Homo sapiens: one gene and its partners. The protein of the gene in region 4 purifies or fractionates together with the protein of the main gene of each other region. This does not show direct contact. Each region holds a gene or a part of one and is shown on either strand. Other genes may lie near its edges. The genes, in order: STK11IP, COLEC12, PLXNB2 and TLR1.

The links.
Region 1: the proteins of TLR1 (region 4) and STK11IP purify together in Homo sapiens (affinity purification with mass spectrometry; one large-scale study listed by BioGRID and IntAct). This does not show direct contact.
Region 2: the proteins of TLR1 (region 4) and COLEC12 purify together in Homo sapiens (affinity purification with mass spectrometry; one large-scale study listed by BioGRID and IntAct). This does not show direct contact.
Region 3: the proteins of TLR1 (region 4) and PLXNB2 purify together in Homo sapiens (affinity purification with mass spectrometry, with the first as the bait; one large-scale study listed by BioGRID). This does not show direct contact.

What each region holds. Positions count from the first base shown.
Region 1 is NC_000002.12:219,600,120-219,608,039, reverse strand, and holds part of STK11IP (serine/threonine-protein kinase 11-interacting protein), read right to left. Parts: intron 6,806-7,920; coding exon 6,600-6,805; intron 6,400-6,599; coding exon 6,325-6,399; intron 6,053-6,324; coding exon 5,957-6,052; intron 5,573-5,956; coding exon 5,465-5,572; intron 5,336-5,464; coding exon 5,264-5,335; intron 2,433-5,263; coding exon 2,306-2,432; intron 2,085-2,305; coding exon 1,981-2,084; intron 1,846-1,980; coding exon 1,750-1,845; intron 1,565-1,749; coding exon 1,523-1,564; intron 1,329-1,522; coding exon 1,182-1,328; intron 1,062-1,181; exon of another isoform or gene 1,057-1,061; coding exon of another isoform or gene 988-1,056; coding exon 903-987; intron 1-902. UniProt on the Homo sapiens protein: May regulate STK11/LKB1 function by controlling its subcellular localization.
Region 2 is NC_000018.10:344,960-352,879, forward strand, and holds part of COLEC12 (collectin-12), read right to left. Parts: intron 3,205-7,920; coding exon 3,106-3,204; intron 2,383-3,105; coding exon 1,336-2,382; intron 1-1,335. UniProt on the Homo sapiens protein: Scavenger receptor that displays several functions associated with host defense. Promotes binding and phagocytosis of Gram-positive, Gram-negative bacteria and yeast.
Region 3 is NC_000022.11:50,302,974-50,311,539, forward strand, and holds the start of PLXNB2 (plexin-B2 isoform 3 precursor), read right to left. Parts: upstream 4,674-8,566; 5' UTR 4,580-4,673; intron 849-4,579; exon of another isoform or gene 506-848; intron 1-505.
Region 4 is NC_000004.12:38,793,562-38,801,000, reverse strand, and holds the end of TLR1 (toll-like receptor 1 precursor), read left to right. Parts: intron 1-52; 5' UTR 53-144; intron 145-2,102; 5' UTR 2,103-2,169; coding exon 2,170-4,530; 3' UTR 4,531-4,746; downstream 4,747-7,439. UniProt on the Homo sapiens protein: Participates in the innate immune response to microbial agents. Specifically recognizes diacylated and triacylated lipopeptides. Cooperates with TLR2 to mediate the innate immune response to bacterial lipoproteins or lipopeptides.

The DNA of each region.
Region 1 (7,920 bases), on a different chromosome or scaffold from region 4:
GGAGGGGAACCCAGAACTGAGCAAGCCTGCCCCACACAGATGGCCCCAAATCCTTCAACGGTGCTCCTCAGCGATGAGGGGGCGATGGGCTGTGTATGGGGACACGGGCAAGGGAGGCTACAGGCGTCCCCTCCGCGGCATGTACTAAAGCGTGTCCTATGGAACCCTGTGGTCACATGCAATCCAAGCTGCGCATCCTATGCTACTTCCAGAGACTCAGCATACATGATAGCATCCTGAAGGGCCCGAGACGGCCGGCAGCTGACACACCTATTTCTCTTCAACCTCACATTTCTCAAACTTCTCTGGCCACAATCCTATTATTTTATATATATACATATACACTTTCTTTTGTTTTGGGGTTTTTTACTTTTTTTTTTAAGAGATAAGGTCTTACTCTGTCACCAGGTTAGAGTGCAGTGGCATGATCATAGCTCACTGCAACCTTGAACTATCAGGCTCTGGCGATCCTCCTGCCTCAGCCTCCCAAGTAGCTAGGACTACAGGCGCACACCACCACGTCAGGCTAATTTAAAAATTTTTTTGTAGAAATGGACATCTCTCTATGTTGCCCAGGCTGGTCTCAAACTCCTGGGCTCAGGCAATCCTCCCACCTCAGCCTCCCAAAGTGCTGGGATTACAGATGTAAGCCACTGCACCTGGCCTACATGATCTCTTGACACCCCACAAAATTAATGTTCCTCGAAAAGTTTTCAAAATGCTCCCAGAAGCAGTCTTCTCCTTTCCCTAAACTAAAAGAAAAGAAAAAAGACTAAGAAGCCCTCTATAATACTCTACCCCAACAAAAAATAACATTTCTTCCAGCAGATCTTCACTGTAACTTAAAAATTAGAGTGAGCTCGCTGGGGACGAGAGAGGTTAGTGGGATGAAGCTGACTTACCAGCCGGAGAGGGGTTCAGAGTTCGGGGCTCCGGGTCCGTATCACTGGGTTCAGAGATGCTTGCCCGCCTCACACGGACTCGGCTCTGAGGTTGGTGGAGGGAAGAAGTTCTGTGAAAGCCAAGCCTCCAGCCCTGCCATCCACGGCTGGCCATCCAACCTATCAAAGAAACCTTGACCACGTGCAAGCACAGTTCCTACCATTCCCTGCCCACTGTAGCCCAGAGTCCCCGGAGAGACACCCAACCGCAGGCACAAGGCAGCGGAGGACGCTGCTTACCTTAACCTTATGAAGCAGGGGCTGGGTCACAACACCCCCTGAGGAGAGGCTGTCACTCAGGTCAGGGCCACCTGAGGTTTCAGGAGTACTCCCCACTGGCCAGGGCAAAGGTGGGCCCATGGGGCTGAGCCCCAAGGATGTGTGAGTCTGGCACGTGACGACAGGAAGGAGAGAGAGGTTGGAGCCTGGGAGCACCTCTGCCTTGCCCAAGCCAGCCAAAAGGCGGGACCCTACTTTCCACTGACCAGGAAGACCCTGTCACCAGCCAGCCCTCTGTTCTCTCCCCAGCGCCCTCCCTTCGTGTCTTCCCCCAACAGTCCTCGCCCCCCAACCACACCGACCTGAAAATCTGTCAGTGACAAGACCTTGCCATCGAGAAGGAACTGAGCAAAGACAAAAAGGGGGAGGGAGTATGTGGTAGGCCCATCCTGCTGAGCTCCAGGTATTAAGAACACAGTAAGCAGGGTCCAGGTCCTTGGCCCCTCACCCAGGGATGGCAAGAGGGTGCAAGGTGGGGGAGGACTGGGCAGGAAAGGGGAAGAAGAGTGGACACAGGACGATCACTCACGCCAGTAGCAGCATCCCTGGCCCGGGGTGACAAGTACTGGGCAGTGGCTGCTCGGTGCTCAGGGTGGAACCAAAGAGGGTTCCCCTCCAGGTAGAGCTGAGGGGCAGGAAGGGGAGAATGAGGAGGGCCTGGGGCCCTGGCCCTCCCTGTGTGAAGAAGGCACTGACCAAACCAGCATGGGGGGGTACGTGCAAGGGTGGTTCCCAGGCCCCTGATGCATTCCCATCTCACCTTGCGGAGCTCAGCCAGCAGCCACAGTGGTGACAGCTCCCGGTGTCCTTCCAGCAGGTTGTATGCCAAATCCAGGTGCCGCAGATTCCTCAGCTGCTCTAGGCCTGGGGTGGACGCAAGAAGGAAGGAAGAGCATGTGGATGAGTACACGCAAGTGAGTGTGGTGCATGCACTGGGGGAGGTTGCAGCAGAAAGACCGGCCAGAGCACCCCTGCACTCCCCATAAGCCCTCTCAAGGCTCTAGAGGCACATGGTCCCCAGGCCAGCCCCAGCCTCACTCTCCCCCTTCCCCTCCATGCTTGCCCCATCACACACCCCCACTCACCATGCAGGCTCCGAAGCTCATTGCCTCGCAGTATCAGGACCCCCAGAGCAGCCCCTGAGGGTCCCATTCTTGGCACCAAATGCAGGCGATTATAGGAGATGTCCAGATGGTGGAGCTCACACAAATCCTGGCAGGGGTACAGGGGAGAAAAAGATTATCTCGTTGACCAAACTCTAGCCAGGGTCCTCTGAGACCTCTTCTGGACTAGGCCTCAACCTTGGCCTATATAAAACTGCACACACTCAGCACAAATGATTTCATCCACCCCTACTCCCACGTTAAAAGACTTGAACAACACCAGCACTGTTCCTAACAGTTCAAGGCCACACCCTGAGCATGGCAACTCCAAGCCCCTTAAATTCCTGCCTGGGAAAAGTCAAAGCTGCCAAAAGAATTTCCCATTTGTTTCAGCCAACTCCTGAAGATAGGGCCCCGTCTCCCAGTCTCTGTGAAAGGGTAAGGGCCTTATTTTGGTAAGTGCCAGTTAGTTAGCAAACTCAGATGGGTTTCATGTGGACCAACCTGATTTCCACTCCCCCAGCTCTGCTCAAGGCCCTACCATTCCCCTGCCCACTCCCCGCCGCCCTCTTTTAAAATGCCCAGCCGGCCAGGTGCAGTGGCTCATGCCTGTAATCCCAGCACTCTGGGAGGCCAAAGAGGGGGGATCACTTGAGGCCAGGAGTTCGAGACTCACCTGGCCAACATTGTGAAACCCCGTCTCTACTAAAAATACAAAAATTAGCTGGGCGTGGTGGCACACACTTGTAATCCCAGCTACTTGGGAGGCTGAGGCAGGAGAATCGCTTGAACCCGGGAGGCAGAGGTTACGGTGAGCCAAGATCGTGCCATTGCACTCCAGCCTGGGCAACAAGAGCGAAACTCTGTCTCATTAAAAAAAAAAAAAGGAAAAAAGTCCACTGACACTTCTGTATCTTCCAGGCTCTGTTCAGGGAAATAACCGTGACTGCAACACTGTCTATGCTATCACCACAAACATTCAAACTACAAACGAAGAAATCCATCGGTTGCCACTGCTATCCTCATTCCACCATCTAAAGAAACATAGAGCTCAACACCTAGAAATCTCAACTGGCTGCCCTCTGGACTCAGAAAATGGATTTATAGTCTGCTCCAACCATTCATCTTTGTTTCCCTTTTTGTTTCCATAGAAATGTCCCCCATTAAATGCCTGGTCACTCTCACCATCCAGCAAAATTCATCCACTACCAAGTCCCAATAAATGGCTCAGTTGGTTTTTAGTGAACAAAAGGTGATCAAGGAAGAAAAGGATTTATATTGTTCAGGGGAAAGAGGAGTGTCTCTTCTTTCCCTGAATTAGAGGAGGTTCTCACCTTGATCAAACCCTACTCAGGCTCCTCTGGGCCTTCTTTTTGACTAGGCCTCAACTTTGGCCTGTTAAGAACTGCAGACTTGTTCAGCACAAGTTCAACAAAATTCAACACAAATTATTTTTGTTGACTCCTCCAACCCCCACAGTAAAAAACCTGAACAAAAACAGCAAAGTTCTAATATCTCAAGGATGCATCCCTAGAATGGTGACTCTAGCCCCCTTAAGCTCCTGCCTGGGAAAAGTCAAGGCTGCCAAAAGAATTTCCCATTTGTTCTAGCCAACACCTGATGACAGGGCTCCCATCTCCCAGTCTCTGTGGGAAGGTAGGAGCCTAACTTTTAGCAAACCCAGAAGGGCTTCATGTGAATCAACCTCCACTTCTGCTTTTCGTACATTTCCACTTCCCTTACTCTGCTCAAGCCCTCACAGTTCCCCTTCCTATTCCCTCACTCTCCTTTTAAAATGCCCAGCCACCTCTGCACAAATTGAAGTGGCGTTCAGTTCAGGTTGCACCCTCTTCCCCGCTGCAATAGTTTATCACTGATAAAAAATCTGTCCTTACTTGGTCGGGCACGGTGGCTCACACCTGTAATCCCAGCATTTTGGGAGGCTGAGGTGGGCGGATCATGAGGTCAGGAGTTCAAGACCAGCCTGGCTAAGATGGTGAAACCCCATCTCTACTAAAAAATACAAAAATTAGCTGGGCATGGTGGCGGGCACCTGTAATCCCAGCTACTCGGGAGACTGAGGCAGGAGAACTGCTTGAACCCAGGAGGTTGAGTTTGCAGTGAGCCAAGATCACACCACTGCACTCTAGCCTGGGTGACAGAGCAAGACTCTGCCTCAAAAAAAAAAAGAAAAAAAAAATCTGTCCTTACCACTTTAACTAGTTCGGCTTTATCTCTGACAGGTGGATGGGAGGACCCAGAAGAAAGGTTCTTCATCATAATCACAAAAGCTACCAGTTTCTGAGCTAGGCACTAGACTAAGCAACATTGGGTACTTCTTCACAATCATTTTAATACTATAAAAGCAGGTATTCAGCCGGGCGTGGTGGCTCATGCCTGTAATCCCAGCATTTTGGGAGGCCAAGGCAGGTGAATTGCTTGAGGTCAGCAGTTCAAGACCAGCCTGACCAACATGGTGAAACCCCATCTCTACTAAAAATACAAAAATTAGCCAGGTGTGTTGACACGTGCCTGTAATCCCAGCTACTTGGGAGGCTGAAGCAGGAGAATTGCTTGAACCTGGGAGGCAGAGGTTGCAGTGAGCTGAGATTGCGCCACTGCACTCCAGCCTGGGTGACAGAGCGAGACTCCATCTCAAAAAAAAAAAAAAAAAAAAAAACCAGGTACTCTTGTGATTTCTACTTTACAGGTAAAGAAACCAAGAGGTAACTAACTTGCTCAAAGTTGCACAGGTATTAGAAGTTGAGATATGAACTCTGGTTTGTCTGATGCTAGTGTCTAAGCAGTGCTATCTCCCAGAATGCAGCTCCACCCTCATGGCAAGAGCAAGGTGGGAGTAAAAGCTGGTCAAGGAGAGAGAGTGAGAGCAGAGCAATCAAAGACCCATGGTGTGCCAGCTGCCAAACTGCCCATACTCACCATCAGGAATCCCTGACAGTCCTGGACTTGATTGTGGCTTAGGTTCAAGAAACGCAGAGCTGACAAGAGGCGCTGAGAGAGACGGGGAGGAGGCAGAGAATCGATGTTCACTACAATACTATCTGGTCAACCAGCTGGCCCTCCTCCCCAAAGGCCTGGCCTTGCCCTTCCTCGAAACCCTCTTCCCTCTGAGGCACTCACCAGGGAGCTGTCTAAGGCGGTCAGTGCATTGTAGCTGAAGTTGGCAGAAAGCAGAGCCAGCCAAGGGAGGGCAGAGCAGAAGTCGCCGCCGCAGGCTGAGAGGAGCTCCTGAGCAGACAGATGGGTGCTTCATTACCCCACCCTCCCCTTCCTCCCTATGCCAAGGCCAAGCTCTACCACCCAGTCACTCATTCATTTTTTATACACTGAACTCCATCTGAAGATACAGGCTTAAAGCCCAGGTCCCTGACCCAAGAACTCACTGTAGGGACAGTGGGAAGGTAGACACTAGAATATGTAATATAATATGGTAGGTACGACTATAAATATACAGGCAGTTACAGAGTGCTGCGGGAACACAGAGAGGGAGTGAGGACACTGTCTAGAGGGAAGCAGGAGGCAGGGAGAGCTGCAGAGAGGGGAGAACATCAGAGCTTGGTCTTCTACATCTCTCAAGTTGAGGTGTCTGAGCTCACCCCTCACTCTCCTTACCTCTAATGCCTGGAGGCTCCTGCTGCAAATCAGGGTCTCCAGCTGGGAGTAGATGCCTCGGAGGCCATGCAGACAGTGGAGGGGAACACCTCGGAGCTGGGACAAGGAAAGAGGAGGGAGGAAGGCAGAACCCCACAGAAGACAAAGACCTCATCCCCATCCCCTAGTTGGGAGGAGGGAGAAGACCACAAAGCCCAGCTATGATTTAGGGAAGCAGTAAATGGAAAGACAGTGGATATCACATGACTGCAGAGCAATGGGTATACTCAGGCCTGGCCTCCTCACCAAAGAGGCTCTTCTCTTTCCCATCCCCAAGGGGCTGCCTCAAGTTGGGTGCTGTGCACCAACATCCCCCCGTGTCCCCATACCTCCAGGTGCCGAAGGGATTTGAAGGGGAAAATCTTGATGGGCCCTGTGGGGCCAGGACCAGCAACATGGACCAGCTGAAAAAAAAAAAAAAACTCAATTTACTGAGGCACAGCAGATCTTCCTGCCCTCAACATTCCTTCCTTAGCACAACCACTGGTACCTCTGACACCCTCTGGATCCTGGCACTGCAGACTTCTGCACCCCTACCCTATCCCCAACTTCCATCATTCTCTTGGGCTCCTTGCACATCCTGCCTCTTCCCCACACCCAGAACCTTGAGTGAAAGTGTTTTCTGCAGCACATCGAAGAGAAACTGAAGCTGAAGAATAACAGGGGAGTCGGCAGGATGGGAGGGCAGAGCCACAAAGCCTGTCTGGCCAGGGCCCCATGGCCCCAGGTGCAGCTCAAATACGTGGTTCAGCTGTTGCAGTGTGGGAGTCAGCAGGCTCAGGGTGCTACAGCCAGACAGGACCACATCCCCTGCAGAAAAAGGGGCAAACAGGAGGGAAGACACAGTGAAAAGATTTTTCTCTTTATTCTAAGGCTCTATGATGCCAAAATATACCCACTCCAATCCATATTGTAGATCTTCTATTGCAGGATCAAATTTTCTATCTCCTTCTCAGCTCAAAAGCATTCAATGGCTCCCCTCATCTTCAAAAAAAGTCCTAACATTTCATTCAGCCTGATGAGACTGCTTGGCTACACAACTCCAACCAACTCTTCCAAATTTTCTTTCACCTTCTGCTCAAAAGAGCCTCATCTACTGACAGTGCTGGAAATACAGCCAGCTTGGTTCACAGTTCTCTCTTGTTATGAGACACCCCCTTCCACCGCCCAGCTTGAGACCAGCCTCCTCCAGGAAGCCGCCTCAAGAAGTAATACTGCTGAATTTTCATATTGCAGTCACTCATTATTACACAAAAGTTAATTGGAAGTTTTATCTTTCTTTCTTTTTCTGATTGCAAAGCACATCTGTAGAAACTTTCAAACAATACTAAAAAGTATGTCATAGAATAACTATTCATTATAGCACTAAGGCATTGTTATTGCTGTCTGTTAAAACTGCTCTCTCTAATGAGACTTTCATCCTTGAGGGCATCTTTTGATCACTCTGGTATTCATCACTGCACCTAAAAAAGTGCAGCTACAAGCTAGGCATGAAGGAATGCTTTTTTGGCTTAAAAAATATAATAAGTATGGAGTCAAAGAATGCTGCAGAAATAATACAGAAAGGTCCCCTGTATCCTTTACCCAGTTTTCCCTAATGGTTACATTTTATATAGCTATAGTACAATATCAAAGTCAGGACACTGAGCTGGTTGCCGTGGCTCAGGCCTGTAATCCCAGCACTTTGGGAGCAAGGCACTTGAGGTCAGGAGTTCAGGACCAACCTGGCCAACATGGTGAAACCCCGTCTCCACTAAAAACACAAAAAATTATTCTACGACTCTAACCTCGTCTCTACTAAAAATACAAATATTCTCAGCTGGGCATTGCGACATGCGCCTGTAATCCCAGCTACTCGAGGGGCTGAGGCCAGAGAACAGCTGGAAGCCAGGAGGCAGAGGTTGCAGTGAGCCGAAATTGAGCCA
Region 2 (7,920 bases), on a different chromosome or scaffold from region 4:
TCCGGATCTGCCTTCAGCCTCACAGGGGCTTATTAACTACCACTCTTTACCCTTGATTATTAGACCAGTGTGGGGGACATACCCCAAGGTGGCCCCTAGTGACTCAGGCCCTTGTGTAATCCCTTCCCCTTGAATGTTTGCTTACAGCCCATCTTCTGATGCCCTGAAATTCTCTTTATGTTAAACTCCCTAAGGGTGAGGACCGTTGGTTTCATTTGTATACCCCAGACTGCTGAGCACAGCATCTTCCACCAGTACTTTCAACTTAAAACCTGTGAAAATAGTTTGTGACTGGAAAATACTGTTAATATATGATGCTACAATTCTTCAACTGTGGACTTAGTCTGAGTCAAGGACTTTTAATTTATATGGATGATCTGGATAACAGTAAAATTCAGATTATACGTATGTATTCATTCATTTATTTGTTTATTTAGGAGATGGGATATTGCTATGTTGCCCAGGCTGGTCTCAAACTCCTGGTCTCAAGCGATCCTCCCACCTCAGCCTCCGAAAGTGTTAAGATTACAGGCATGAGCCAGCACACCTACCAAAACTCAGATTTTATAAGCAAGACACATCGTTTCCTTCCTCTGTGACCTTACTGTGACCTCTGTGTTACTGTGATGGCCAACCATTCATCTACTCATGACATGTAACTCCCTTAATGGTAGCTTTGTGACCCAAAAGACTTGATCTTGCTTTCAGAGGAGCTTGATTTATATTGCATTGAAATAGCTCAAGGACCAAGAAAATTCAAATTAACCAACCTTTCACTCAACAAATAATTAATGGAGTCCCTTTAAGTACTGTCCACAGATTCTTAGTTACACTTCTTTTCAAGATGTGGAACTTAATTCCACTTGCATTGAGTGTGGGCTGGACTTAGTGACTTATTTCTAAGAAACAGAATGAAGTGGATGTGATGGTGTGTGGCTTCTGAGGCTAGTATGTCATGGTATCTTCCTTCTTGTTCTCTCTCTTGAATTCCTTGTTCTGGCAGCAGCCAGCTGCCACATTGTGAGGACACTCAAGCAATTTCACACAGCAAGGAACTGAGGCCTCCTGCCAAGAGCTATGTGAACAGGCCACTTAAGTAGCAGACCCTCCAGCCACAGTCAAGCCTTCAGATGACTGCAGCTCTGGCTGAGATCTTGACACAACCTCATGAAAAACAGTGAGTCAGGACCATCTAGCTAAGCTGCTCTTGAATTCCTGGTCCACAAAAACTATGAGATGATGAATATTTATTGTTTTAAATTGCCAAGTTTTAGAGTAACTTGTTATGCAGCAATAAACAACTAATACAAATACAAATTCAGAATTTTGACTTACCTTGTAGTATTGTAAAATTCTTGATGAGCTGACCATGCTTGGAGTCTACTAGCTTCATTTCTTCCATAATCACTGATAAGTTGGCTACTTCAGTGTCTAACCTCGACCTCATCAAATCTTGTTGCATCCTGAGAGAAACAGAATCCAAACGGATGTTGGCCAGGGTATTATTCAAGGAGGTCAGATCATCTGTGTGTTTGGTAAGGGTATCTGTGCAAGTGGTCCTGACTTCATTTAGATTGCTGGTCAGCGTCCGCAGGTGGTGGGCTGTGTAACTGATATTGCTAATGATGTTCACAATATCCGTCTCAAAGAGCTGGAAGCGTTCCTCCAGTTGGTTGAACTTGATGGCTGTTCTATTCTCTGCATCTTTGTGTAAGTCCTGCAGGTCTTTCAGGTTCTGCTCGTTGGCTTGAGAGATAGTGGTGATGTTCTCCATCTGACCTGTGAATGAGTTGAGCTGGCTGTTCATATCCTCCAGGGTGTCGTTGTTGGCTTTGGCCAACGCAGAGTTGTTGGCAGCCAGCGTCTGCAAGCTCTGCACTTTCTCCTTCAGCCAATCCGTGTCCTTCTTGGCTTGAAGAAAAACCTGCTGCAGATTTTGAAAGTCGTTCTTGATTCGCTGGATAGCCTGGCTTGTGTCATCCACAGACCGCTGCAGATTCGTGATGAGGTTCCTCTGCTGCACCTGGGTCAGGTTCAGGTTGTTGAGGTTCATGATGACCACATTATGAGAATACATTTGGTTCTGCAGATTGCCCTGGAGCACGCTGGTATCTTGCTGCAGATTCGTGACATAGCCATTATACGCCTGGAGGGTTTTGTTTACAGTGGTGATGAGGAAAGAGTTATTCTCCAAAGTTTCTTTCAATTGACTCTGCCTGTCCACCAGAGCATCCCCGCTCGCCTGTAACTTCTCCAGCGTATCCTTGTTCTTGCTGGTTTTTTCTGTAATCTCACGAAGTTGCTGACGGAGATCTAGAATGTCTGATCTGAAGGTGGAGAGTTCTGAGTTGGTGCTGATAGCTTTCTTCCCAGTTTGGTCACCTGGAATAAGAAATATCTGTGACTTATATTGGTGGTATGGAGAAGTGTTCAGGCAAGGCCAAAGATCCCGAACACACTTAATCGGTATGCACTGTATTTTAGATGCAAAATTGGCAGTATAAGCGGACAGCTCTGCATTAGTAAAATGTACATATCTATTAAAACTGGGTCCTGGGGAATCGGAAAAGAAGCTCAGAACTAGGAATGACAAACTTGGCTGAACATTTTTCTCAAAGAGGGAGGGGGAATTTACTAGATTTTAGGGCAGTGGGCAGGCTGTCAAGAAGAAACTAACCTTTTAAATTTCCCAAATTTTTTTTTAATGAAAGCAAAAATCAAGGAATAGAATATGCTAGGATCTTTCACTTTATAACTTAATTTCTACAATTCTATGTAGTTTAAAGTATTTCAAAAATGCTCAGTAAATTCCTATTTATGTGACAGTTTTTAATAAAGGGTATTTGTGTTTTTTTTCAGTCAGGATTGATCTTCAGATATTATTTGGCACATAATAGTTTTCTTGGCAGGACTTAATTCCAAAACTGACCCTTAACTTTAAAATTTAAGCATTTGAATTAAATCATGAGGGGAGACTCAACATGCAACACAAAAATTGAATGTCCTTCCGGGTGAATGGGGAGTTTATAGCAACATCATTCTAAGAAGCTGTGGTCATTTATGTAGAGTCAGGGGATTTCATGGTTTAGTCTTGTCACAGATTACCTAATTTTTTCAGGTCACTTTCCACTGCTGTGAGCTTGTCATCATAGGTTTGGCGAGATGTTTCCATGCCACCTGTGACATTGTCCATTTTCTCTACAACTAAGATTTGGAAAATGATGCATTAGTATACATATCTGCTCATATTTTATTTTTCAGTTTCAAAACAAGAGATCATTTCATTATGGAACAAAGGAAACAGATTGAACGAAAACAGTGTAACTGAAATCAAATATAGGAAAGAAAAGCCATCTTTTTGGAAAAATAACTTACTTGTCACAAAACCCAGGGGTACAATTTACTTAGTTGAGAATTGTATGTTCTTAACTATTCTTATGATTCTGTAATGCCTTGGATGTTTCAGAAATCATTTGGAACTAATTTAAAAATTTTCATGCATTTTAGAAGTCCCTAATCTGCTATTTCCTATATTAATTTCCATAGATGAAGGCAAGGCACACTGTGATAATTTACAAAATGTTGTCACTCATCAGCTTCCCTAACATTCTTGGCAGGTGGGACTCATTTACCTAGAAGAGGATTCCATTGGCAAGGAAAACCCAGCTCAATTCTATACACAAAATCGGCATAGAAAGGTTGCAAAGTCAAGAGTGTCTGCCACTTTCTGTTATGAGTTCCACCACAAGGCCCTGAAAATCTGCTTTTTGTTAGTGACAACTGATTCTGTAGTTTGTCAGTTCTCAAGTAGATGCCTGAGTGGTGTTTCCAAACAATGATTTGCCAAGAAGTATTTTTTGGTAGTATTTTCTTGATTGCATATGATAGGGAAAGTAATGCCACTGATAGGGTTTGGCTGTGTCCCCACCCAAATCTCACCTTGAATTATACTCCCCTAATTCCCATGTGTTGTGGGAGGGACTTGGTGGGAGATAATTTGAATAATGGGGGTGGTTTCCCCTATACTGTTCTGGTGGTAGTGAATAAGTCTCACAAGATCTGATGGTCTTATCAGGGGTTTCCACTTTTGCATCTTTCTAATTTTCTCTTGCCGTCCCAAATGTTAACCCCCAAGACAATGGGGAAAATGTCTTCAGGGCATGTCAGAGCCTTCCTGGCAGCCCTTTCCATCACTGGCCTGGAGGCCCAGGAGAAAATGGTTTCGTGGGCCAGGCCCAGGGTCCCCATGCTGTGTGCAGCCTAGGGACTTGGTGCCCTGCTTCCCAGCCACTCCAGCCATGGCTGAAAGGGGCCAATGTGGAGCTGGGGCCGTGGCTTCAGAGGGTGCAAGTCTCAAGCCTTGGCAGCTTTCATGTGTTGTTGAGCCTGTGAGTGCACAGAAATCAATAATTGAGGTTTGGGAACCTCCGCCTGGATTTCAGAGGATGTATGGGAACTCTTGGATACCCAGGGAGAGGTTTGCTGCACGGGTGGGATGTGCATGAAGAACCTCTGCTAGGGCAGTGTGGAAGGGAAATGTGGTGTCGGAGCCCCCACACAGAGTCCCTACTGGGGCACTGCCTAGTGGAGCTGTGAGAAGAGGGCCACCGTCCTCCAGACCCCAGAAGGGTAGATCCACTGACAGTTTGCACCGTTCACCTGGAAAAGCCACAGATGCTCAACACCAGCCATGAAAGCAGCAGGGAGAGAGGCTGTACCCTGCAAAGCCACAGGGGTGGAGCTGCCCAAGACCATGGGAACCCACCTCTTGCGTCAGCATGACCGGGATGTGCGACCTGGAGTCAAAGGAGATAATTGTGGAGCTTTAAAATTTGACTGCCCTGCTGACTTTGAACTTGCATGGGGCCTGTAACCCCTCTGTTTTGGCCAATTTCTCCCATTTGGAAAGGCTATATTTACCCAATACCTGTAACCCTCATTGTATCTAGGAAGTAACTAGCTTGCTTTTGATTTTACAGGCTCATAGGCGGAAGGGACTTGCCTTGTCTCAGATGGGACTTTGGACTGCAGACTTTAGGGTTAATGCTGAAATGAGTTAAAACTTTGTGGGACTGTTGGGAAGGCATGATTTGTTTTGAAACGTGAGGACATGAGATTTGGCAGGGGCCAGGGGTGGAATGATACAGTTTGGCTGTATTCTCGCCCAAATCTCATCTTGAATTATATCTCCCAGAATTTACATGTGTTGTGGGAAGGACCCAGTGGGAGATAATTTGAATCATGGGGGCGGTTTCCCCCATACTGTTCTCATGGTAGTGAATAAGTCTCACGAGATCTGATGGGTTTCCACTTTTTCATCTTTCTCACTTTCTCTTGCTGCTGCCGTGTAAGAAGTGCCTTTTGCCTCCCACCATGATTCTGAGGCCTCCCCAGCCATGTGGAACTGTAATTCCAGTTAAACCTCTTGTTCTTCCCAGTCTCGGGTATGTCTTTATCAGCAGCATGGGAACGGACTAATACAGCCACACTAAATAAAAGCTTCAGTTCTTATTCATTTTCAGAAGGCAGTAATTCTCTACAGTTATGAATTCAAGTACACGTTTCTAAAATGTTAAATAAGAGGATGTTTCTCCAAAAGTGATTTATGTGAGATACAGCTTCTAGCAGCTTGGGATCAAGTCTGACTGTCCTTCTTAGTATCAATAGCTTAAAAAAAAAGACTTCAGACCGGGCATGGTGGCTCACGCCCGTAATTCCAACACTTTGGGAGGCTGGGGTGGGTGGATCATTTGAGCTCAGGAGTTCAAGACCAGCCTGGCCAACATGGTGAAACCCCATCTCTACTAAAAATACAAAAATTAGCCGGTTGTGGTGGTACACGCCTGTAACCTCAGCTACTTAGGAGGCTGAGGCAGGAGAATTGCTTGAACCTGGGAGGTGGAACCAGGAGAATTGCTTGAACCTGGGAAGTGGAGGTTGCAGTGAGCCGAGATCACGCCATTGCACTCCAGCCTGGGCAACAGAGCGAGACTCTGTCTCAAAAAAAAAAAAAAAAAAGACTTCAAAAAATGAGAACATGCTTTATATATCAATTATGAGCCAACGGATCTAATTTATTGTATTCATCACATGTTCTACCCACGCATGACTGTGTGAGATTCTCCTGGCTCCTCTCAGGAAGAAGTAGTAAGTTCCCATGTGTTTGTGTGACCCAAAGTGAACTGGCTCCTTGGATCCTGGAATTGTCCCTGGAGAAGCTCACTGTTTTCCCTCAAGCTTCTACCGTCTGGTCATAATGAAATGTGTGCACTGCGACAAACACTCTCTCACACGAGCCTTTCCATGTGTTCTCTCTACCTAGAATGTTCTTCCCTGTTTTTTTTTTTTACTGAGCTAAGTCCTATTTGCTCTTCAAGACTCTGCTTGTCACTTCCTGTGGGAACCCTTTGCCGAGGTGCACCTTGCAGAATTCCCCTGGCAAGTAGTCCTTTCTCTATTATGGGACTCACTGCACTGTGCTGTCATGACTTATCTACTATTATATCCTTTAGGGCAGGAAAATTTACATTCAATTCCATCTCTTCCTCTTAGCTCAGTGTGTGGCACTTTGTAGGTAGTCAATGAATATATATTTATTATGTCATTTATTTATTTAATTTTTTATTAGACGGAGTTTCACTCTTGTTGCCCAGGTTGGAGTACAATGGAATGATCTTAGCTGACTGCAACCTCCGCCTCCCAGGTTCAAGTGATTCTCCTGCTTCAGCCTCCCGAGTAGCTGGGATTACAGGAGCCTGTTACCACGCCCGGCTAATTTTTGTATTTTTATTATACTTTAAGTTTTAGGGTACATGTGCACAACGTGCAGGTTTGTTACATACGTATACATGTGCCATGTTCGTGTGCTGCACCCATTAACTCGTCAATTTTTGTATTTTTAGTAGAGATGGGGTTTCTCTATGTTGGCCAGGCTGGTCTCGAACTCCTGACCTCAGATGATCTGCCCACCTTGGCCTCCCAAAGTGCTAGGATTACAGGAATGAGGGATTTATTTAAATAAGTAGCAATCTGCCGGCTGAGCTACAGGGCAAGCAAACACGTGTTTCCCAACCAACCCAGGGAAGCCTGAGCATTGGCAGTGAGTATGACATTTCGCTGAGTAATTATTATTTTTAAAATTACTACATAGACAGAGAGATGCAGTTCTAATAATCTGTACCTTAGGGTTGCTTCATAGGTACACATACTCCTAAATCCCTGGAAACTCTCAAGAATAAAATGTTGCATATGTGTTTTTAGCAAAGCTAATTTTTAAGAACTAAAATACAGAATGTTTACAGGTTTAGGTTCAGTTTTGATCCTCAAATCAAAACATATGCCTCGGTCTGTCCTCAAACCACATGCAGGATCTCAAGTCCTGCCCTTCTTTCCTGGAAGCCAAAGAAACCTTCAAATATGCTGACAGTCAGTCATTTTCTACCCTTTCTACTTTTTCTTCCATTTTAGTTTTGAAAAACAGAGAACTGTCATGGACAGATAACTCAGGTTTGTGTAGAATAAATACAAAAGGGATAAATACATTCATTAAAAAAAAGAACAAAAAAAATCTGTCGACGTTTTCTTCTGTGCAGCAAAAGGAAACTATTTTCCCTGCCCACAAGTGCTAATGAACAGTTTACATGCACTGGGGGGTGTGTGTCTTTGTTTAACAATAGGATCTGGTATAAAGCTGGAAATGTTAGGATTGCAATGCTGGAACCTGCTACTGCATAAAAATACCAGACTGGTGGAGATCCAGAACTTACCCTTGCTGTAACAGCACACAGCACTTTCATTGACTTTTATTCTGAATTTATTAGCACCAATTCTCAATCAGGAATACAGTCGCAGAGCCATCCTGTATTACCCTGGAAATTCCCAGTCTATAGACATAGACCTCAGTTTGCAGACCATTCTCAC
Region 3 (8,566 bases), on a different chromosome or scaffold from region 4:
TCCTCAAACCCCACTCTCCATGGCTGGGTCCCTGAAATACTTGGATTACCCTCAAGCCCCCCGCCATCCCCCCAAGCTGTGGCTCCCATGCCACCCTACCACGTCTGAGTCACACAGGCCCAGGCCTCCCTTGCTTCCCCCAGGAGAGACCCCCCCACACTCCTGCTTCTGGCCTGTCCTCAGAGCCCCAGAACTCACCTAGGTTCAAAGCCAGACCCCAGCTGAGGACAGAGCATGGACCCCAGGCAAATGCAGTGACAATCACAGAGCACGCTCCTACCACAGCCACCCACGCAGCCTGAGGCATAGCCCCCTGGAAACTGCCTCGGCCTTCAGCACCCCACTTTGGACCAGCAGGGCAGGGGGGTTCCTCCTCTGAGAAGTCCTCAAAGCTGCCTGGAAGGAGCAGACAGTGCCCCCAGACGCCAATCTGACAGGGGGCCCAATCTGTCTCTGAGCAGGTGGCATGCTGGCTCGGGGGCCCCAGACCACAACAGAAGGTCACCTGGGAAGAGAGCCGCAGCCCTACACAAGGCTCGTGGGCAGGAACCGTCCCAGCCACAGGAGCAGACGCCCTTGCCTGGCCCCTCAGGGGGCCGTGTTCACACAGGAGGCCTTCTCAGAGGTGGACACCAAGCACTTCTCTCTCTTGCGCTTGCTGCGGGACTCAGCTGGGGCAGCATCAGGCCCAGAAATCGGTGCTGGACACTGTGTCTCCACACAGGGCCCCCCATGGAAGCTGCTGACCAGCTGTGCCAGAGGGGCCGGGGCCCTACCCCCAGGAGCCCAGTCCCTGCCTCTGATGCTGCTGCTGCTGGGACCCTGCTGGCAGAGCTGGTGGCTGAACTGGGGCAGCACCTCCCTCTCCTGCCCCAGGCCTGGGCCGGGACTCAGCTGGCACTGGAATGAGGAACTATTGGCTTTCAGAAGCCAGGAGACCTTAGGGGGCTGAGGAAGAGAGCTGGACCTGCCCCCAGGCGCCCTGATCCCAGCCCAGGGCAGTCTCCTCCCTCACCTAGCCTGGGACATGAGGCAGCTCAGGTGTGGCCTTAGGGGCTACCCCCAGGGAAGGCCACCAACCATAGCGGGCCACGGTGTGGGCTGGCCTCTGGGTGTGAAGGGCTCCAGGATCTGGGCTGCAGAGGCGGGACTGTGCGAAACAGAACCCCCAGCTCCACAGCCAGGCCAGCCCCAGGCTCCTCCCCAGACAGACATCCCCGGGGGTGGGGCAAACCTGCAGTACCACCAGGGGCAGCCTGTCCCACCATCCCCGGCACCACTGGGCCTGGGGCCAGTCACTGTCACAGGTTCATGAATCTCACAGGGCAGGGTGGATCCACTGGGGGGGTGCGGGGTGCCAGTGTTCAGGGCCAGACGGGAGGGGCCCAGCCAATCCCTTCACACGCTTGGTCTTCAGAGAGAAGGCTTCTGAGCCAGGAGGGCCACTGTGTCAGGGCCTGGCTTGAGGCCACACCTGTGGCTGGGGGAGCCCAGAACAGTGCAGGGTCCTTCCCTGGTAGGCAGAGAAAGGCAGGGGTCCTTACAATCCAGGGGTATGGGAAGAAGCAGGCCCTGTGTCAAGGGATGTGAAACCACGGAAAGGAAGAAGGTGGAGGAACCTCGACCAGAAAGAGGGAAGCTAGGGCAGCTGCCTCCCCGGGGCCCCAGAGCCTGAGCACCCCCCACCAGCCAAGGCTCTGACCCACCCTCCCCATCGTGTAATTAGTCAGAGACCCAGCCCCACCCCACCCACAGCCCCACCCCAAACACAAACAGCCACTACCCCTGAGGGAGGGAGGGGCTGTGGCCAGTCCCAGCCCTACTGAATCTCCCACCCCCAGAGAACCTGGATCTGCCTCAGAGAAGGGAGGTCAAGGCTGGGGGGCCACTTGCTGGCCACTGGGTGAATTCTGAGCAGCTCACCACCTCATCCCCAAACCGTGTCCAAGGCAGGCTCTGGGCACAAGAGGTTCCCCGCCAACTTCCAAGGAGGGCGGCCAGGCTGCAGCCAGAGGGACGGAGGCATGAGCTGAGTGAGAACTCCCAGCTCAGGGGAAGGCAGCCCTCGTGGCAGAGGCCTGGCATCCAAGTGCCTGCCTAGCTCAGAGAAGGCACAATATGAGGGGCCGGAAGACACAGCCTCTCCCAGCCAGTGCACCCCTGCCCACGCCCGCGTCCCAGGGGGACCATCAGCTGTGGCTGGCACAGGGTGAGGCAGGGGGCAGGACACGGTGAGCACGGACGACGTCCTGGGATGGGAGGAGGACTGTGCCATATGGGCCCTCCCCACCACCTTCCAATCCAATCTCTTCTGCTCCACTTCCCTGGGCCGGGTCCAAGGCTCTGGGCTTTCTGCACTTGGGGCCAGCTGCCGGCTCCTCCTCCCCGATGTGGTCCCCATGCAGGCCGCCGGGCACACACCCCGGGCGCACACACAGCATGGACCCAGAGCGCCAGGTAGCCACAGCCCTGGCCACACAGCATCGCAGATGACTCCTCACATAGACCTATCTCTGGCCTCAGTCTCCCCACCTGCAGGATGGGCTCACAGGCGCCATATCCAGAGGGGGTCGTAGGCAAGGACTGGCTGTCGGAGGGGCTTGGAGGGAGGCTGGTCCGTTAGTCAGGAGCTGAATAGGGAGTCCGTTGGGGCAGGAGGGCCCCCTGAGGGAAACCCCAGTGCCCTCCCTAGCAGCCTAGCCTCGCTCCTGCCTGCTCCTCCCTGGCACGCACAGGTCACTGGCACAGGGTGTGTCCCTGAACTTGGGCCTGGAGGGTACCTCAGAGGCTCTTCAGACCACCATTGAGACTTCTCGGGGCGAGGGGGTCCCTGGGTGGGGCGAGGGGGTCCCTGGGTGGGCCCAGAGCTCCTCCTGTTCCATGGTCTCCCCCAGAGGGGCTTGGGCCCACTGCAGGCTCAGCAGGGCCTGCTGGGGCCAACCTTGGGGCTTTCTCCAACCCAAAGGTGACGCATCTTCTCCCCGCCCAGTCTGGGCAGCTGCAGTAGAAAGTGGCAGAGCTGCCCGGACTTGCCCGTCCTCCTCCTGGGGCCCTCAACCCACGTCCCGGAAGTGGATCCTTCTCCCACGCTGCAGCCTCCCGCTTCGGGTGACTGGACACGGCTGGATGATCCAAAATAATTCTTTCTTGGCAGGCAGCCGGTGGGGGAGGGGGACTCACATTCCAAACCCTTGTTTTTCTCAGTAACTTCCCTCCTCTACTGGGGCAAGGAACCCCTGGCCAGACCTCAGGCCTCCCAGACCCCCCGGGACAGAGGTGGGCCCCCCATAGGTACCGTGGGAGGACTCAGATGTGCCAGGCCCACCTGCTTGCTTCTCAGTCGGCTCTGGGGATTTCTATGCAACATGCAAAAAGCTGACTCGCCACAAACCTATGCCTGCTGGCCCTGCCCTCCGGGAGACCCTCACCTCTGGACAGGAAAGGGAGGGCTCCTCCCACCAGCTGTTCAGCTGTTCCGTGCCAGGGTCATCTGGGCATGGGGCAGGCTGAGAGCCCCCACTTCCCGGCAGCCTCGCTCTCCCACCCGCAAAGGGCTCCTGAGGAAGCTCAACTTTAAAGCCTCACAGGCTGCGCCGAACCTCCAAGCAAGGGCCGAAGTCAGACATTAAGTGGGGAGGGCGGGGGGGTCCAGGGAAGGTGGGGCACAGGGAGCCCTCCAGGCCGCCGGGATCTGCCGGGTTTGGGGCCCACCCTCACCCTCACCCTCACCCTCACCCTCACCCTCACCCTCACCCTCACCCCCTGTCCTGACTCTGCCACAGCCCACAGTGGGCAGACGGACCCCTTTCTTCCTTTCCCAGGGAGCTTCGGGAAGAGAAATCAAGGGCCTGGCAGGAAGCCCCAGGGCGTCCGGGCTCTGAGACCCCCAGATGACAGGGGGAGGCGGGCTCCCCAGATCTGCCGAATAGCCCGACCAGGGGCGCTGGCAGGGCAGGGGCTTCCTGCAGGAGCAGGGTGCGGAGGGGCAGGGTCAGCAGGGGACAGGCAGGGCTCGCGCCCCCGCTTCTGAGACTTTCTGTGTCTCGGGGTGTCCACCCAGACGCCACTCTGGGAACCGCGAGGAGGCCCAGGCAGTGGGGTCTCGCCAGGTGCGGGTGCTCTCCGCCCTGGTCCCCCCGCGCCAAGCAGGCCCCAGGGGGTGCGGGGACGGCCCCCGGGAGCTCGGGCAAATCCAGGCTCCTGTGCCGCTGAGCCTGGGGCCGGCCCGGAGCGCCCGCACCGCGAGACCATCTCCGCTCGGCGCACGGAGCTCGGCGGCTGAAGAGTGAGAGGCAGGCGCGGAGGAGGGATCCGACGCGGCTCCGGAGGGACGCGCAGCCCCCGCCGCCGGGCCCGTCCCCCGAGTCAACACCGGGAAGGGAGTGGGGCGGCAGCGGCCCGGGCCTCGCCGGATGGACCGACGGACGGGGCCCAGGCCCCGGGAGCCCTCCGCGGAGCCGCAGCCGCCGCAGGTCCCCGGGCCCCAGCGCGGCAGGCCCGGGCGGAGCGGCGCTGACGGCGAAGCCCCCCCCACGCCCAGCGAGACGTCCCCCGCAGCCCAGTCCCCCGAGCTCGGTACCTGCACGTCCGCCGCCAAGGCTCGATGGCGCCCGGGCCGCGCTCGGCGCTGCGCTCTGGCCCGCGCTGCTGCCATGGAGACGGGGCCTTTGTGTGGCCGAGGAGGGGCCGGAGCGCGCGGGAGCTGCCGGCCCCGCCCCCGACGAGGGAGAGGAGGGGAGGGCGGGGAGAACAGGAGAAGGGGGGAGAGGGAGAGGGAAAGCGGAGGGGGAGAAGGAGGGGGAGGGGGAGGGGGGAGAGGGGGAGGGGGGAGAGGGGGAGGGGGAAGAGGGGGAGGGGGAGAGGGGGAGGGGGAAGAGGGGGAGGGGGAGGGGAGGGGGAGCAGGAGCGGGGAGGAGAGGGCAGAAGAGAACCGGAGAGGAGGGGAGGGGACGGGAGGGGAGGGGCTGGGCCTGCGCTCCCCGCGCCCCCCACTTCTCCCCTGCCCAGCGGCCACAGCATTGTCTGGTAGGTTCAGGCACCCCAGTTCAGACCCAGGTTCAGCCAGGGCAGCACCCTGCCCACCATGCCGCCGTCCAGGAAGCACGAGCGCCCACAGAGGCCCCATGGCCTGAGCACCCCCACAGGAACCCCGCAGGTCTGAGGGGAGGCCATGGCTTGGTACCAGGGGAGGGCATTATGAGTGCACTCTCGCCTGGCCAGAGGAACGTGAGGGTCCCTGCCAGTCTTGAGATGTGTGGGCACCAGACTCTCACTCCCAGACTGGAAGCATACCAGTCGCTCCCCTGCGGCCTTCAGGGGTGGGGGCTGCTGGGCTTTGGCCCTTTCCCAGGGGTCTCAGGCCCTCAACCTCCCAGGGTAAACTGGGACCTGGAGATGGCCTCCCAGCACATCCCTGGCCTCCAGCAGCACCTTGGGATGCTGCACCCGGGACCCCACCTGGTCCTTCAGGGCCAGGAGGTGGGCGGGCCGAGACCTCTTTCTGGGGGTTCTGGTTTCTGGGACAGAGCTGGCCCCACTTCTGGCATCCCAGGTCCCAAGTCCTGGCCTCAGTGCTCCTAGTGTCCCCTGGGCTTGAGAAGAGGTGGTGAACCGTCTGCAGGGCCAGACCTTGGAGCACGCCTCCACTGCCCTCCCGGAACTGGATGTGCTGAGCAGGAGACAGAAGCATTCCCCAAGCTCTTGCCCCCACCCTGGGTCACCCCTCCCTGGGGCCCGCCTTCCACCCAGACCTGCCCCGTCCTTGCAGCTGGTCAGCTTCCTCCTGTCCCCAGCCAGGCATCCCCTCCTCCTCTGCTTCCCCCACCCGGGATCCGCCCCGCCACATCCTGACAAACTCCCCCAGCCTGACTTAGTTCTTTCAGTCTCTGCCTTCTCCCACCCTCAAGCAGCCAGGCCTTGTTCCTGTCCAAAATCTTCCCTTGGGCCTTGAACCACAATCCACATCACGGCAACCCTACCCTTCACTGCAGAGGACCCCAAAATTACCAGGTTCTGACAAGGTTGCCAACTTTTTATCAAAAAAGGAAAAGACAAGGTCCAGTCACAAAAGGACATTTTAATACCAAAACTGTGGGAAGGCCACTGTTCTAGACTAAAAGGGAGTCTTTAAATAGCCAGCAGGAAGCTTGAGGGTGAGCAGCTGTCCTTCCTGTCCCTGAGCAGGCCCCCTGTGTGCACCCTCAGCCCCGAGCCCCACTCCAGACCTGCTCCCAGCCCTTCCCACCCTCTAGGTTCTGTGGTCCCTGTCCTTCGGGAGGCCTGTGACCACAGCAGTCCTCACCCTCGCCAACTAAGTTCTGCCCAGCAAGCCCTCTTGCCTGCGGGGGCTGGCACTCTGGCCAGGGGTAGAGCTGTCTGGACCTTCCTGCCTCTTCACTGACTGCCCCTGGCCTGGAGTGCGTGGGGCGGGGAGGGCCATGGCCTAGCCCTGGACAGAGGCTCAGCCAACTCAGAGCGGCCCTGACACTGGGGGGGCCACAAGAGGCATCCGGACAGATGGAGCTGGCAGGTCTCCACGCCCAGCCCCCACCCATCCACCCCAGGCCACATTCCACCCCAGGCCTCTTCTGCACAGGTGGGGACAGGCCCTGAGGAAGAGGGGCTGGGACACTACCCCCCACCTTAGCCTTAGCTTCTGCCCAGGGCAATGCTGGCCACCCAGCCCGGTTCCCCCCTCAAGTTCCCCCTTCACACGCCACTATGTGGCCTCACCAGAGCCCTCCAGGGAAATCTGCTTGTGCATTTCTGGATACACAGTGGCCAGGGTCCCTGGGGGCTCCTCAGAGACCAGCCTGAAGCCCCTCCCCTGCAGCCATGTGGGTCTGCAGCCCTCTGTGCTGTGCGGCAGCCCTCAGAAAGCCAAGTGAGGCGAGACTGTGCTGTGGGGAAGCACATGCTGCCACGGTCCTTGGGGTGCGCTCCCCAAAGTGGGGTCACAGTTGTGAGAGAGGTGGGTTGTCTTCCCAAGCTGCCCCGACACCTTGAAGTGGTGGTCCTCAGGGGGCTGGTCACCAGCATAAGGCTTTTGCAGAGGGCCCTGGTGGAGGGCAGCTGATGGCAGGGCCTGTACTGGCCCCCCAGGCCCCATCTTATGGAGGTCAGCATTCAAGCTGCCCACACAAGAGGTGCCAGCATCTCTGCAGACCCTCTAGAGACCAAGCCCTCAGTGGGGAGGCTGGTCCCCCTGTGCTACAGTCAGGAGGCCCAAGCTGCATTTGGGGCCAGGACCTTTCTCACCCTCGGGTCCCCGGCTTGTCCCTGCCACAGAACAGGTTTGCCACCTCGGCCTCTATGTGTTCTGTTTCATGTGGTCACATCCTTGGACCCTGCACCAGACATCTGGGGCTTAACAGCTCCCCTTGGTCACCCTCCCGGCTGCCTCCGCGTCTTGTCTGTAGAATGGGAACAGGGACAGGCTGTCCTGGGCTGCAGTTGGGCTGGACAAGTTGACATGTACCAAGTTCTGAGAACTACCTGGCGCCCGGACACCTGACCCCGCTGTCCTTGTGGCTCAGTCACATCCTGCACTGAAGTGGCTGGCAGTGCTCGCTCTCCACCACCTGGCTGGAGGTCTGAGAGCACCAATGAGAACACAAACAGTACGTTGCGCTGAATGAAGGCTACATTCCTCGGACTGAATGGGGGCCTCAGAAGAAAAAGAAAAGTCCCGGCCGGGCGCGGTGGCTCATGCCTGTAATCCTAGCACGTTGGGAGGCCGAGGCGGGCGGATTACGAGGTCAGGAGATCGAGACCATCCTGGCTAACATGGTGAAACCCTGTCTCTACTACAAATACAAAAAATTAACCAAGCGCAGTGGTGGGTGCCTGTAGTCCCAGCTACTCGGGAGGCTGAGGCAGGAGAATGGCGTGAACCCGGGAGGCAGAGCTTGCAGTGAGCCGAGATCATGCCACTGCACTCCAGCCTGGGCAACAGAGCGAGACTCCATTTCAAAAAGAAAAAAAAAGAAAAAGTCCCTCCCCCAGCCCTGTGTCCCCTGGCCAGCACCCGCCCGGCCTCACAGGGTACAAAGCCCAGTCTCCATGAGTGGCCCTCCCAGCACCCTGTCGGGCATCTGCATGGCTGGCTCGCTCAGATGAGGAGTCTGAGGGTCTGAGTGGTCAGGGGACCTGCTCCCGGGCACACAGTGCGTGATGCTGAGCAGGGCTTGGCTGTCCGGAGCCCTGACAGTACCGTCACTGTGTGCTGTGCAGGGTCAACACCGTACCTCACCGGCCTCAGTGCCTGCAGGTGTCACGGGGGGAGCATACAACCCAGAGGTGGCTCTTAGGGACGTTCACCCCTTACCAAGGAAAGGGAGACATGCAGGCTCCAGCCAGAGGCAGGGTCAGGCCGAAGTCCAGAGCCCCTTGGGCTGCATGTGGGGGATGGACGGACACACTTGGACAACAGGAGCCCTGTCCACCTCCCAGAAGGGACGCACGGAGCTGGTGCCTGGTGGGGGCTCCAGGACTGGGAGCCAGGAAGGTGCTGTGGCTCTCCGAGAGCCAGGCTGAGCCAGCTCTCCTAGCAGAGGTGCTGGGCTGC
Region 4 (7,439 bases):
CACCTTGACTTTTAACATGAACATTAATGTCTGCATCATCTTCCTTGCTCAGGGTCTTCATGAACACTAATAGGGGTACCAGGCCCTCTTCCTCGTTAGAAGAAATCAGGATAACAAAGGCATATTGGGCACCCCTACAAAAGGGTAAGTCCAAGGAAGGCTCCAAAACCCAGATAAGTTTGCACATCTAAATTGGGGAACTTTTGTAACCGAGGGTTGTTTGTAGCAGCTAAATTATTTAGGTTCTCTGTGCTCATTGAGATATGGGAGGGGATATGTGAAGAGGAATTTGGTGCTTTGCTGATACTAATGCCCTGCTTGTCTAATGGTTCTAGGGGATTTTGAATAAGTTCCTTGTGAGAACTGGGTAGCTGTGTAATCACGGCTGAAAGGGTCTCTGGAGGTGAGGACTGCACACTCTAGAGTTCATCCCAACACAGCTCCCTCTGTTCTCATACGCCACTGGAATGCTGACCACAAAATGGTGTCTTAGCTAGAGCAGTTTGAATACTGGTACAATAGGCATAACCTAGAACAGTGCCTACCACTGCATGGAGAATAAATACATATTTGATGAATGAATGAAAAAAGTATTCTGAATAAGAGAGAGGAGGAAACAACTCCCTTTCTCAAAACCTCCCAGTGTTCTCCACCCTCTCATCATTTTTGGAATAGAATCCCAACTCCTTGCAATGATCAACAAAGCCTGAGTGATCTTGGCCCTAACTCCTCTCATCTTCCCTAACTCCTTACTAACATTGACCTTCCCGTTCCTTCTCAGACAAGCCAAGCTCAATTCCATCTCAGGTCCTTTATACTTGCCTTTTCTTTTGCCAGAAATGCTGTAGGTTACCCAGATCTTCCCATAGGTTACTCATTCACTTCATTTTGATTTCTACTCTAGTGTCATCATCTCAAAAAGGCCTTCTCTAACTAATCACTCAAAAATAGCCACCCCCAAGCACTGTCTCATACCTACAATTTACCCTGCTTTATTTTTCTCTACAGAACTTATCACTACAGGAACTTGAGTTTAGTCATTCATTTATTTTCTGTCTCCCCACTAGATAAAAACTCCTTGAGAATTCGGACTTTATCTTGTTCACTGCTCTATCTCCAGTTCTTAAAACATGGCCAGTAGGTGATCAATAAATACTGGTTGAATAAATAAATGGATGAATAAATGGATCTTCTGAGAGGCCTTTTATCAGGATCTAATTACCTTTTGAGTAAGACCAAAGTTAGACCCAAACCGTGTATAGGTCATAAAGGGTAATAGAAGAGCAGTCCCAATACCACCATTAGGAACACCTCTTGAGAAAGTCATGGGGAGATGTACGTCAAAGAGTGAAAGTACACCAGTTGAGTCTTAGCTGGAGTTCTAAATAATTTTGGGAAGCTTGGGGCCAGAAAACTTTCTATGAACCCACCTGTATTAGTTTCCTGAGGCTGCTGTAACAGATGATCATAAACGTGGTGGCTTTGCCCTCAACGTTCTGGAGAGCAGAAGTCGAAACTCAAGGTGTCAGCAGGGCCACCATCACTCCAGAGCCTCCTCTAGCTTCTGGCGCCTGTTGATGTTCCTTGCCTTGTAGCTGCTGCACTCCAGTCTCTGCCTCCACTGTCACAAGGCCTTCTCCTCTGTGTCTCAATTGCCTCTTCTCTTGTCTCTTTGTCAAATATCCCTCTGCCTTTCTCTTAAAAAAGCACTTGTCATTGGATTTATGGACCACCTGGATAATTTGGGATGATCTCCTCATCTCAAGATCCTTAACTTTATTATCTCTGCAAAGACCCCTTTTCTAAGGAAGGTAACATTCATGGTTTCTGGGGATTAGGACATGGTTAAGATGTAGACATATCTTTTGGTGAGCCACCATTCAACCTATTACACCATCCATATTAAAACTTATTTGATTAGAGCTGGCATCATTATTTACCAATATATATACTTCTCTAGTTTTAGGCCATGTAACCCAAAAGAATGTAGCCTCCACTTTATAAGTCTGTAACAAAAAAAAGTTTAATGTCAGCCATGACTAATTTCGTGTATTTTAAAAATGTATGTAATGTATTTCATCATTTCATTATTTTTTTTCTAGAATCTGTATCTGTATCAAGATGATCTGAAGAACAGCTTCTACCTTTAGGAATGTCTAGTGTTCCAAAATGACTAGCATCTTCCATTTTGCCATTATCTTCATGTTAATACTTCAGATCAGAATACAATTATCTGAAGAAAGTGAATTTTTAGTTGATAGGTCAAAAAACGGTCTCATCCACGTTCCTAAAGACCTATCCCAGAAAACAACAATCTTAAATATATCGCAAAATTATATATCTGAGCTTTGGACTTCTGACATCTTATCACTGTCAAAACTGAGGATTTTGATAATTTCTCATAATAGAATCCAGTATCTTGATATCAGTGTTTTCAAATTCAACCAGGAATTGGAATACTTGGATTTGTCCCACAACAAGTTGGTGAAGATTTCTTGCCACCCTACTGTGAACCTCAAGCACTTGGACCTGTCATTTAATGCATTTGATGCCCTGCCTATATGCAAAGAGTTTGGCAATATGTCTCAACTAAAATTTCTGGGGTTGAGCACCACACACTTAGAAAAATCTAGTGTGCTGCCAATTGCTCATTTGAATATCAGCAAGGTCTTGCTGGTCTTAGGAGAGACTTATGGGGAAAAAGAAGACCCTGAGGGCCTTCAAGACTTTAACACTGAGAGTCTGCACATTGTGTTCCCCACAAACAAAGAATTCCATTTTATTTTGGATGTGTCAGTCAAGACTGTAGCAAATCTGGAACTATCTAATATCAAATGTGTGCTAGAAGATAACAAATGTTCTTACTTCCTAAGTATTCTGGCGAAACTTCAAACAAATCCAAAGTTATCAAATCTTACCTTAAACAACATTGAAACAACTTGGAATTCTTTCATTAGGATCCTCCAGCTGGTTTGGCATACAACTGTATGGTATTTCTCAATTTCAAACGTGAAGCTACAGGGTCAGCTGGACTTCAGAGATTTTGATTATTCTGGCACTTCCTTGAAGGCCTTGTCTATACACCAAGTTGTCAGCGATGTGTTCGGTTTTCCGCAAAGTTATATCTATGAAATCTTTTCGAATATGAACATCAAAAATTTCACAGTGTCTGGTACACGCATGGTCCACATGCTTTGCCCATCCAAAATTAGCCCGTTCCTGCATTTGGATTTTTCCAATAATCTCTTAACAGACACGGTTTTTGAAAATTGTGGGCACCTTACTGAGTTGGAGACACTTATTTTACAAATGAATCAATTAAAAGAACTTTCAAAAATAGCTGAAATGACTACACAGATGAAGTCTCTGCAACAATTGGATATTAGCCAGAATTCTGTAAGCTATGATGAAAAGAAAGGAGACTGTTCTTGGACTAAAAGTTTATTAAGTTTAAATATGTCTTCAAATATACTTACTGACACTATTTTCAGATGTTTACCTCCCAGGATCAAGGTACTTGATCTTCACAGCAATAAAATAAAGAGCATTCCTAAACAAGTCGTAAAACTGGAAGCTTTGCAAGAACTCAATGTTGCTTTCAATTCTTTAACTGACCTTCCTGGATGTGGCAGCTTTAGCAGCCTTTCTGTATTGATCATTGATCACAATTCAGTTTCCCACCCATCGGCTGATTTCTTCCAGAGCTGCCAGAAGATGAGGTCAATAAAAGCAGGGGACAATCCATTCCAATGTACCTGTGAGCTAGGAGAATTTGTCAAAAATATAGACCAAGTATCAAGTGAAGTGTTAGAGGGCTGGCCTGATTCTTATAAGTGTGACTACCCGGAAAGTTATAGAGGAACCCTACTAAAGGACTTTCACATGTCTGAATTATCCTGCAACATAACTCTGCTGATCGTCACCATCGTTGCCACCATGCTGGTGTTGGCTGTGACTGTGACCTCCCTCTGCAGCTACTTGGATCTGCCCTGGTATCTCAGGATGGTGTGCCAGTGGACCCAGACCCGGCGCAGGGCCAGGAACATACCCTTAGAAGAACTCCAAAGAAATCTCCAGTTTCATGCATTTATTTCATATAGTGGGCACGATTCTTTCTGGGTGAAGAATGAATTATTGCCAAACCTAGAGAAAGAAGGTATGCAGATTTGCCTTCATGAGAGAAACTTTGTTCCTGGCAAGAGCATTGTGGAAAATATCATCACCTGCATTGAGAAGAGTTACAAGTCCATCTTTGTTTTGTCTCCCAACTTTGTCCAGAGTGAATGGTGCCATTATGAACTCTACTTTGCCCATCACAATCTCTTTCATGAAGGATCTAATAGCTTAATCCTGATCTTGCTGGAACCCATTCCGCAGTACTCCATTCCTAGCAGTTATCACAAGCTCAAAAGTCTCATGGCCAGGAGGACTTATTTGGAATGGCCCAAGGAAAAGAGCAAACGTGGCCTTTTTTGGGCTAACTTAAGGGCAGCCATTAATATTAAGCTGACAGAGCAAGCAAAGAAATAGATTACACATCAAGTGAAAAATATTCCTCCTGTTGATATTGCTGCTTTTGGAAGTTCCAACAATGACTTTATTTTGCATCAGCATAGATGTAAACACAATTGTGAGTGTATGATGTAGGTAAAAATATATACCTTCGGGTCGCAGTTCACCATTTATATGTGGTATTAAAAATTAATGAAATGATATAACTTTGATTTAAACAGTTCTGACACATAAGGGATCCACTTGTTTCTTTGCTATAACTGAGTTCTGAATTTATCATGAAGTCAAGGGAAGCACCTGTTTTTCTTCAGTGATGTGTGTTCTAGTGTATCATGGCCAATATTGGAAAATGCCGTGACTTTTGTGAATATAGCTGGGTTTGTATAGCAGATTTCTACAGCTTTTGATGCTTTCCTCATATCCATGGTGCATTCAACTCAACTTATTGATGGCTGCTCGTTGATAAAGCTGGAGACACTATGCCTGAAGGTTCCTCCCCAACCCCCCACCATCATGCCCACACAAAGGGCAGTTCAGAAGTGCTGGAAATTGTCCTTGGAAACAGCCCTCAACCAATGTCAGAAAGAGCTGGTGGATAAATATCCCAACTTTCTCACTCATTTTTTGAGATAAATCAAAAAATGGGGTATACTTTACACTCTCCCTGAGTTCCCCAGTAGGATAAAATTCTGGTTGTCCACAGTAGAAATGGCTTGATTAAGTATTCTCGACTGGCTTCCTTCCCATTTTTTTCTCACTTACTTATTCCTCCATGTGTATTCCATGGGATCACCTCTGTGATAAACTACTTGCCACTGAATATTTGTCTCAGGGGCTGCTTATGAGGGAGCCCAGACCAAGAAAGTGTTCCACCTCAGTCCAAATGAAAATTCTGAGTCTAGTTTTCCATGACTGGAGATCTCGCTGAGATTCTGGTTGTATGAACTAACATGCACAAGAGCCTTTGCTCTTTTGATTAGAAGGAAGAATATAGTTGATATACGGTGCTTCTATATATAGCATCTGTCTCTTTGGGGAACTATTAAAGTAGAGCATGAGCAGATGGGGCAGTGTAAGGAATGGATATATCTGATGCTTTTCATACCCATCAAACATCCTGTCAGTCTACATTTTTACTCCAGCAGCCAGCTCTGGGCAGGTGTAGTCTTGACAAAAACCTTGTCATAACTACACCATGTATCTTTCACTTTATGCCCCATGACTTCACTGATACCACTGCGTGGGATGCTTGTAGAAGCCTGTTCTACCATTCTGATACATGCACAAACCTGGAAGCACAAGGGATAACACTACGGGATGGGAAGCATTATATACATGCTCCTTTCTTCTATTCTTGGGTTAAAAAATGAGGTGTAATTGATACCTTTTCTCAGACAATCCCTAGTGGCACTGAGGTTTACTTACCCACAGGGTAACCAGCTCAGTAACTTGGTTTTGCATTGACTTTCCATTCTTCCTTGGTCACTCTTCTCATTCGGGTCACTCTTGAGTCCTGAGATCGCTGCTCCAAACAAGCGACCTTTCCTTAACTCAAGGAGTCTAGAAAAAATAAATAAAATAAAAAGCAACAAAAACCAAAAAGCCTACAAATGACCAGCCCACAAAGCTCTCATCTCAGTCTCTACTTTTTTGAGTGGGAAGGAACCCAACTAACACATACATATCTATTAGCTTCTTGGCCTAAAGAACTTACAGTCAATCAGAGAACACTAAACATATCCAAATAACTAAAATAAAAATCAATGAAACAAAGCTATAAAATGGAAGTTCAGAGGTTGCTTAAATTGAGTGAAAAAAAATCTTAGAAATGATGTGTCTTTTTTTTTTTTTTTCCATTAGGTCTTGAAGGAAGACTTTAACTTTGGATTTTTCAATGTGTAATGATGAAGAATGGAAAGGCCATTCTAAACAGAAAGATAAAGAGAGCAAAGGCAGGTATACCCAGGCCTATTCTTGGACTGGTATCCCAGTTTGACTGGACCGTGAGGTTCATGAAAAACAACAGTAGGATAGGAGTGTGGAAAGTTATATTAAGACTATATTGTCAAGGATCTTGAAAGTCAAACCACGGAGTTAGAGCTTGAAAATAGAGGAAAGTCATTATTTAAACTTCTTTGAAGCATAATAGTGGGAGGCAAATTCAAACCATGAAATGTATGCTAAAAATAGGAGAACTATTGTTCTGTAATGGAATTGCAAAAATTGTAAGAACTGGATTTTCCCATTTTCTCTAGGATGATTGCACTTTCTGTATTGAACTTCAAGATTTCATAACCAAGTTTCAACTACTCAGCAAGCAGTTATGTATTCGTTTTCAAGGTCTATTTTAACAAAGTCTATTTTAACAAGCTGGGTGGCCTAAACAACTGAAATTTATTCCCATAGTTCTGGAGGCTGAAAGTCCAAAATCAAGGTGTTGGCAGGGTTGGCTGCTTTTGAGAGGAGAGAGGGAAGGATCCATTTCTACTGTGGACAACCCAGTCTCTTTTCTTAACTCATAGATGGCTGTCTTTTCTCTGTCTCTTCACATCGTCTTCCCTCTATGCCTGTCTGTCTCTGTGTCCAAAATTCTTTTTTTTTTTTAATAAGGACACCAATTACATTGGATTAGGGCCCACTCTAATGACCTCATTTTAACTAAGTACATCTCCCAACAACCTTATTTCCAAGGAAGGGGTAATTCTGAGGTTCTGGGGTTCAGGACTTCAACATATGAATTTTCGGAGACACAATTCAACTTGTTACACCCTGTAAATCCGAAAAAGAATTCCCTGAAAGGAACCTAAAGTCACTTAGAGTTTATTTAATAAACTCAAAATTTTTAGACGTTAGATCAGTCCTATACATAAATAGCTGATCTCATAAGTGGTTTTAAGGATGCTGGCGGGAGGTTGAAATTGTATTGG